Linked DNA regions of Homo sapiens: region 2 is linked to region 1. Evidence: fine-mapped expression QTL. Tissue or cell type: whole blood. Region 1 holds a variant in brackets; the other region holds the start of a gene. All regions are shown on one strand. Distances are between the middles of the regions.

What was found. PIP is the estimated chance that this variant, and not a neighbour inherited with it, causes the effect.
Region 2: it holds the start of MOCS2, and the variant in region 1 is fine-mapped to the expression of MOCS2 in whole blood (TOPMed, PIP above 0.99). The same link has a PIP of 0.9 or more in blood mononuclear cells and monocytes.

What each region holds. Positions count from the first base shown.
Region 1 is chr5:53,063,143-53,067,388 of GRCh38, forward strand. It overlaps ITGA2 (integrin subunit alpha 2), which reads left to right. Exons shown (of 30, transcript NM_002203.4): 14 at 1,770-1,973; 15 at 2,699-2,835; 16 at 3,976-4,115. Among named protein-coding and RNA genes, the nearest start is that of MOCS2, 44 kb to the right of the region's middle. The variant G/T (reference allele first, on the strand shown) is at 2,108.
Region 2 is chr5:53,107,880-53,112,125 of GRCh38, forward strand. MOCS2 (molybdenum cofactor synthesis 2) reads right to left here and starts at 1,878. Exons shown (of 7, transcript NM_004531.5): 1 at 1,372-1,878; 2 at 643-764. It overlaps MOCS2-DT (MOCS2 divergent transcript), which reads left to right and starts at 1,963. Exons shown (of 2, transcript NR_104654.1): 1 at 1,963-2,269. RefSeq lists a silencer at 1,617-1,906.

The DNA of each region.
Region 1 (4,246 bases):
TTTCCATGAGAGGTCTTTGAATATATAGTCTCTTATGCAAATAAAGCCATTATAAGTGCACATCGTTTATTGAAATATGCACACACACAAACATTTGTGTATTTCTCTAGTATCACATGTAATTTTTTGCGATAAAGACAACAATAACAGGGCAATGCTTTCTTGTTATCAGTTGACAGTGAAAAACAGAAGTTTTACCAAGCACTTTGTAAATTCCTTGTGATCTCAGATGCTTCCTACATTAGTTTGTCAGGAAGTGTCATTGCTTAGTGTAACATTTAGGCATGTATCCAACTCTTGAAGTTTCAAGTCCTTCCACAAAAAAACACCATACATTAACATGGCAAAGCATAATTTTTCCAATTTGTGGACTGAACTCTCTAAATCCATGTATATAAGTGTAGTGAACTCCATGAAATAAAAAAAGAAAACCAAATTAAAGGCACAGATTGACATAGAAAATTATATGCTCCTTAGTATATAAGAAAAGGAGAAGCTGATGTTAAAATAGTAAATACTATGTTTAAGTATTGTGATATTTTGTACCACCTGATTTATTGATATTTATGTAAAAATTAATCTTTTAACAGAAGTAATTAATTAAAACAATTCTAAAGCAATTATACATATAAAGAATGTGTAATTGAGTATCAACAAAGGCTGGACCTAGTTACTTGTTGAAAAACTGACAAATCCCCCCTTCTTTAAATATTTCTTACTTGTGAGATATACTGAATTATCATTAATTGTTGAAAATGAACAGATCTTTTAATACCGTGTCAAACGCAGTAAAAATTTGTATAAGATTATATTAGAGGAGAAAGAACACTGACCCAGTTTCATGGTTGAGAAACATTGCTTTCTTGTGAAGTCATGAAATATTTCCATACTTGATCATAAAATTGAAGAAAAAAACTGTGTTTTACAAGGAAACGTCTTTTCCTTTGCACAGAATTATTTAATGTTTTTAATAATGGAGATATTAACAATCTCATTTTCTACTTCCTGTACCACTATAATTATGTCACTATTTGGTAATTTTTACAGAAAGCCTAAATTAAGATATTGTGTTTTATTTTGTTCTGTGTCTGCTTTAATTTCATTCAAGATATTAGTAATTTTCACCAGAAAAATTTTAAATCAAAAGGTTGGAAATAGATGAAGATCGTATTATTGAGAGGAAAATGAGACCAAGAAATGGATGCTGTTCAGCTACAGTAAAGAGAATTATCTCCTTTGACCTTGGTTTATGAGCAGATATTTATGACCTTACTGAAATTCTTATTTATAATTCTGATCATAAATAGTTCAGGTTTAAAATTCTATCCATTTTTAATATTAAAAAATTAGTTTGGTCATCGATTGCTCTGAATTTTATTTTCTTTTTTATTTTATCATATTTCTTTCACTTTTTTAAATAGATGGGGACTTGCTCTGTCACCCAGGCTGTAGTGCACTGGTGTGATCATAGCTCACTGCAGCCTCTAATTCCTAGGCTCAAGCAATCCTCCCACTTCAGCCTCCTGAGAGCTAGGACTACAGCTGTGTGCCACCACTCCTGGCTAACTTTTTACAAAAATGTTTTATAGAGACAAGGTCTCACTATTGCTCAAGCAGGTCTCAAATACCTGGCTTCAAGTAGTCCTTCTGCCTCAGCCTCTGGAGTCTTTGGGATTACAGGCATGAGCCACCACACCCAGCTGCTCTGAATTTTAATTATACAAGTTGTAAGGTTTGCTTTAATCATCCTTTTGTTTCCCCTTTGCAAGGGCATTTTGGGTCAGCACCAATTTCTTGAAGGCCCCGAGGGCATTGAAAACACTCGATTTGGTTCAGCAATTGCAGCTCTTTCAGACATCAACATGGATGGCTTTAATGATGTGATTGTTGGTTCACCACTAGAAAATCAGAATTCTGGAGCTGTATACATTTACAATGGTCATCAGGGCACTATCCGCACAAAGTATTCCCAGGTAATCCATGAGCTGTTATGGTGATGTATGTATTTGTGGGTCTTATCATATTAGACATAGAAAGCGTCATGTAAACCATGCAATCCGTCCGCCTTATTTTGTAACTTCATTCTTTCACTCAGCAAATATAAAGT[G/T]AGCCTCTACTGTGTGCCCAAGCACTGTTCTAGAGTCTGGGGATGCTATAAGAACAGGACAGACACAATTCTGATCTTTGTGTGCCTTATATTATATTGGAGGAGACAAATAAAAAGAAAGAAGTAGATAAGATAAAGTATTCCAGATAGTAATAAAGGAATTTTTAAAAAAGCAAATGAAACTAAAATAGGAAATAAAATTTCAGCAATAGGAGTATCAGGTGGTTGAAGGGGTGACTAATGAGGCCTCACTGAGCAGCCAATTTTGGAGTAAGACTGGAAGGAAAAGAACTAGGAAATTAACCCTGTACCTGAACTTGCATCAATTTGCTCCAAGTCCACTGATCTTTTCACTGGTTTATGATTTTTTATTAAAGATTTATGCTGTCCCTTCGATGAAAATGTGGCTGTAAGAGTGATGCAGAGATCAGATAATAAGATGTGATTAAAAAATGAATCTTTAGAATTTGTAGAGAATAAACACAATCTGGGACATTACTATATAGAAAATATAATAATGAAATTCAGAGGCTGCCATTTTCTGGTTCAGCTGTTGTGTACTATAATTTCGTGTCAAACCTGCTCTTTTAGAAAATCTTGGGATCCGATGGAGCCTTTAGGAGCCATCTCCAGTACTTTGGGAGGTCCTTGGATGGCTATGGAGATTTAAATGGGGATTCCATCACCGATGTGTCTATTGGTGCCTTTGGACAAGTGGTTCAACTCTGGTGAGTCAGGAAGAGCCAGACACAAACTAACTAAAAATTACCTGCTAAGAAAGCAGAACAGATGTCTGTACTGGTATTATAGAAATGCCACATGCATTCTATAAGACTATAGGGAATCGATGTATCATAGTTTGCACAAAGGAATAAATGTGTTTTTCCAAGTAGGAAAAATAGATATATTTGCTTACCATTAGAAATATAGTTCTCTCCTCATATGGTGAGTAAAACAGTACATAGAAAACATAAAGTTCTGGAAATGGTATCCAGGCTATTTCTGAATGTTATCTTCCTATAAATAGCCTTATCTCAGCATACAGAAGGGAAACCTCATGAGAGTGCATTCAAAAATACTGAAAATTCAGACCACACAAGTAAAGTGTAACTTCTATGTGACTGAATGGTATATTTTAAAATTATTAGTCATAAACAATAAGCCATTATTTAGGTTTAGCTGACCTCTCATTGACCTCCACAGGAGTTGAAGATTCAGAGAGAACAGTGTGAAGGTCATGTGATTCAAGGTCAAAAATAAGTATATTGGGCCGGCAAGGGAATAGAATCAGAAAGAAGTTGTTTATTCAATCAAGAATCTCCATTCATTTGTCTCTGTCAAAAAATGTGCTTTAAATGTACAAATATTTGAAGAACAGAAAAATAATATTCATTGATTATTTTTTATTTCTGAGTTTAATGATACTATTTACAAATCTCACTTGTGCTTTTAAAGAATGAAGTACATTATTTTTATTGCAGAATGAAACTTTTATGTGGAAAAAATAAAACTCAAGAATAATACTTAAGACTTTAAAAAAACAAGAAAATATATTTACTGAATAAATCAGTTAAAATCATTTCAGAGTAGCATATCAAGAGTAAATACACATATCCCAGAACCTAAAGTATAATAAATAACTAATATGTTAAACATGTATTGTGTTAGTGATGCAGTCACAAATTAAAAAAAAAATTATCTCTGTCTGCCATCTTAGAGCTTTCAAATATATACTACTGCTAAAGTGCTTTGATAGAGAGTAGAGAGAAAAATTCAGTAATGCTGGTACTGGGTCCTCTATGATAAAGGATATAATACGTGTGCTCAGTAATAACATCCATCCATCTGTTACTCTTTATGTCTTTTAGGTCACAAAGTATTGCTGATGTAGCTATAGAAGCTTCATTCACACCAGAAAAAATCACTTTGGTCAACAAGAATGCTCAGATAATTCTCAAACTCTGCTTCAGTGCAAAGTTCAGACCTACTAAGCAAAACAATCAAGTGGGTGCGTAGATCTGAAATAATCTGTATAGAAATTGGTTGGCTTACAGAGTTTTAGTCCTGAATATAACATATTTTGGTTTGTAGGCCAAGAGAAATAAGGGTTTTAGTTATAGACACTTAAGTTTCCTTACA
Region 2 (4,246 bases), 45 kb after region 1:
GCTTTTAAACACTTATTATGGAGTATCTTTTACACAGAACTAGGACTTCCAGGTTAAACACCTATACAAGCTAAGTAACACCATTAATATTCCTGAATCACCCTCAAATAAGTCACTTTTATATTTTGTTCCAAAAAGAACTTGAAGTGGGAATGACATAAGTAAAATTATAGGTTTTTCAAGAACCAGAAAAAAAATTAAATATTACAAAAACTCAAATTCAGCAGCATCTAGGATTTGTTGTAACTCATTTTTCTTTCAATCTTAGAAATTTCTATGTTGAGCTCTCTAAAGAGAGGGGCAGAACAAAATGTTTAAAGCACACATTTTTAACAGAATTTGTAACAATTTCATTTAATGTTATAAAATTGCAGAAGTGACATGTGCAGTGTTTTGTAAATTATCAAAGAGAATATAATCATGTCCCTCTGCGGTTCACTGTGTTTTGGGGTAAAATATCTTTAACCTTTCTTAAAATACGGTGCACATTTAGAGTTTTTCAGGTGTTCCAAAAAAAATACAACTAACGATTCTTTTTGACATTAAGCACGGAAATCGAAATTAACCTTTTTACTTTTATCATTTATGTATTTTGAAAATATCTAAGTGTTACTCATATGCATTCTACAAATTTTTAACTACCCAGGATGTCGAGTTTCTATCTCCTTCCACAGCTGCAACGCTTTTATTTCTTGAGGCACAGAAATGGTCTCTGAACGAACTCCTGTTATTTCAGCACTTTTTGCAAAATACAATACTTCAACCTGAAAGTAAAGAAAATGCTTTTAATAACAACTCATACTCGTTTTCTGACTGTCAATGTTGAGCAGTTTTCTCATTTTCCAAATGTATTGCTTTAATCAAAGACAAATTTTATAAAGAAAATTAAATAACCCGTAAAAAATTTCAGTATACCTACAAGTTCAAATTCTGAAAACTTGTTGTTTTAAATACAATTCAGACTAATTTCTGGATGCCTTTTAGTTTTACAAACTTAAGTGTGCCATCATTAAAATCCTAAGTATTTATCTTCTAGGAAAACATGTTAAGCCTGCCTTAATTGACATAAAAGTATAGCACCTTTTATAAATATGTAAGCAAAGAACAAATGTTTGAGTCAAGAGATGAGTTACACAAATAAAATAAATGAATAAATAAGCGAAAAACCTGTTTCTCACGGTTGTCAAATGACCTTAGATTCCGGTCTGTATAACATCGTCCCCAGACGCTAAGGATTAAGTTATGCAACATAGTAAATCTGACATTTACAGAAGCAAGTAGGTTTGAAACACACGACAGACTGGAATTTGCTAGAACAAACTTGTGCCAGCAGCCTGGTATGTAAGGGATCCGACGAAGTAAAATAGGCACCTGTCACTCCGTGCAAACAACTCTTTACGAAATAATTACAGGTTTGCAAATGATCAAGGGTGTAGAAATCCACAGATGAAGCACAGTTCTTCACAAGAATTCTCCATGAGGTGCATTTCTTTTTAGATTAAAATTTTAGCTTCATCAAAACGAATAATCTGGGAAAGAGGTGGTCATAAAAGGTGGAGGCGCCTTCAGAACGAGTCCGTCCTTGCTGCCGTGAGCTGACAAGAGTTCTCGGAGAGGACCCGACTTCTGCTGGGGCAGTCGCAGTAAAGCCCGGAGACAGGAAGGGCCCGGGGGCGGGGGCGGGGGCGCCCCCGAACCCAAGACGCCGGCCAGGTTGGGGGCTAGTGGGGAGGTCCGACTGACCAAGGCTGGGTATGTGGAGGGAAAGGGCGGGAGAGACACGTCGAGGAGGGCTCCGCACCCAGGCCCGCACGCACACCCGCCACCCTTACCTGGCACAGCGGCACCATCCCGCCTAGGACAGCGGGACCGAATCACGGCCGCAAAGGCGCAGGCGCGGGCTCACCCGGAGCGCAGGCGTAACCCGACGGCGCTCAGCCCCCGCCTGCGCCTGCACGGAGCATGCGCACAACCAGCTCCGCCCCGCGCCGGGCTCTAGCTGTTTCCCTCAGGCGGCCTGTTCCACGCCAGGATTAGTTTTGCTTCGCAGATGGGCCGTGGTGGTGAGAGGAAGCAATCAGTATGGAAATGGAGAAATGGCTTACCATGCATGTCCTTCTCCCCAGGAGGGAGGTCGTGGTGCAGGCGAGCAGACGCCAGACTCCTGGACACTTGCCGCCTGCGTTATGGAGGCTTAGCTAATAACCTTGCAGGGGTCTTCAGGCTTTTCCACTGGCTCACCTTTAGGCTTCTGACACTTTTACCTACGGTATGTGAACCTCGAAAATTTGAGACAGGTCTCAGTTAACTTAGAAAGTTTATTTTGCCAACGTTGAGGACATGCCCGTGACACAGCCTCAGGAAGTCCTGAGGACATGTGCCCAAGGTGGTCAGGGCACAGCTTGGTTTTATACATTTTGGGGAGACAGGAGACATCAATCAATATGTAAAAAGTACATTAGTTCCTTCCAGAAAGGCGGAGACCGTTAAAAGCAAGCCCCGCCCCCCCCAACTGGGGGCTTCCAGGTAGGTAATAGACAGTAGCATTCTTTTGAGTTTCTGATAAGTCTTTCTAAAGGAGGCAATCAGAATATGCATCTATTCTTTGTCAGCAAAAGAGGTGACTTGGATAGAATAGGAGGCAGATTTGCCCTGAGTAATTCCCAGTTTGAAGGGGCCCAAGATTTTTTTCTTTCCCAGGTATATGATTAGTGTTTCTTAAAGACAGAATATCCGCCTGGTCAGAACATTCGAACTGTATGACTTTTCCTGTTTATTGGCTGCTCGGTAATTGTATACTGTCCGTCCAACTTTCCCAATTCTTGCCAACAAGAACTCTTGGCTTTAAATTGCTTGCGTCGTTAAGTGGATGTAAGTTACACGTCCCTTTCCTTGGAGCTCACAGTCCTGGGTAGGAGAGTTTTAAATATGAATGATAATTCCCTGTAATACTAAGGATCTGTGTTACATTTCAAGGGTGGAAGGGGAAAGTGGTTGTGTCACCTGGGGAGTGAGAAGATGCTGAGAAGGTAAATCTGCTAGAATGGTGGCAGTAAATGACAAGAGTGGGAGTAGAGCACGAAGAAATTTCACTTGCCTCTGACAAGCCACAGGGATATGAAGAAGCATAATAAGTTCACAGAAGGGCAAGTAGTTGGCAAGGCAGGTGTGCCTCCAGCAAAGGAGGTGATGAGAAGTGAGGCTGGAGAGTCCTTGGTAGGAAAAATTGACAAGGAGCAATGAATACCAATGTGTATCCTGGTAAAGTTGCTAAACATAAAGGATAAAGACTATATTCACACCCAGGCATAAAAACAAGGGAATGACAATAGTGGCCTTAGACTCCTCAGTGGCATCTGATGGCAATGTGCAGTGTGTAAAAAAGGCTGAGAACAAAAGCATGATCCCATAATATTACAGCCAAACTGGTGGGGCAGGATTCTCCTAAATCAGCAAAAACTCAAAAAACACAATACCCAAGAACCCTTCTTAAAAATCTTTCTTGGGCAAAAAGTCCACTCAATCAAGAGTAATCAAAGTAAATAACTCAGCAATAAAGGTATTAATATGGGAAAAATGAAAAACTAAAAAAACTGGCATTGAGATTTTAACCCATTCAAACGTAAAACTAAGATATCAATTATGGGATATGATTATAAAATAAAATGTAAATGACATCAGAATATTAAAAAAAAATGGAAACTGTCCAAAGTGGGAACATATAGTTACAAAATATCAATTCAGGTTTCTTAATATTTTTCATAATCTTCTTTATTTTAGAAAATATTTTAGGAGCAACTATCTTTTACAAATAAACAATAATCTGATGATTTATAATCCTATCAGTTTCACCAGTTATTTTGTTGATAAATTCAAGTAAATATAGGTCAATAATATTGCCTTGCTTTCATTTTTTTATTTTCTAATTCCTAATGAGGTGAATCTTTTCATATTTTCATTGAGCACTTATACTTCTCTGTGAAGTTTCTGTTCACATCGTTTATTCATTATGCTGTAGATATGACACAGTTCTTTTTTTTTTTACAAAATACAGCCCCATCTATAATTTGTGGATATGCAAGCAAAACTGATACCAAAATATTCCAGGCTTATTCCATAGGCTTTGATTTTACTTTTCTTATGAATTCATTAATTAAATCAGTGAATCATCACAATGGTATATAAATTATTTTAGTAATAGCAAAATGACTTTATGAACATTTGCATTTCACTTAAGCTACAATTT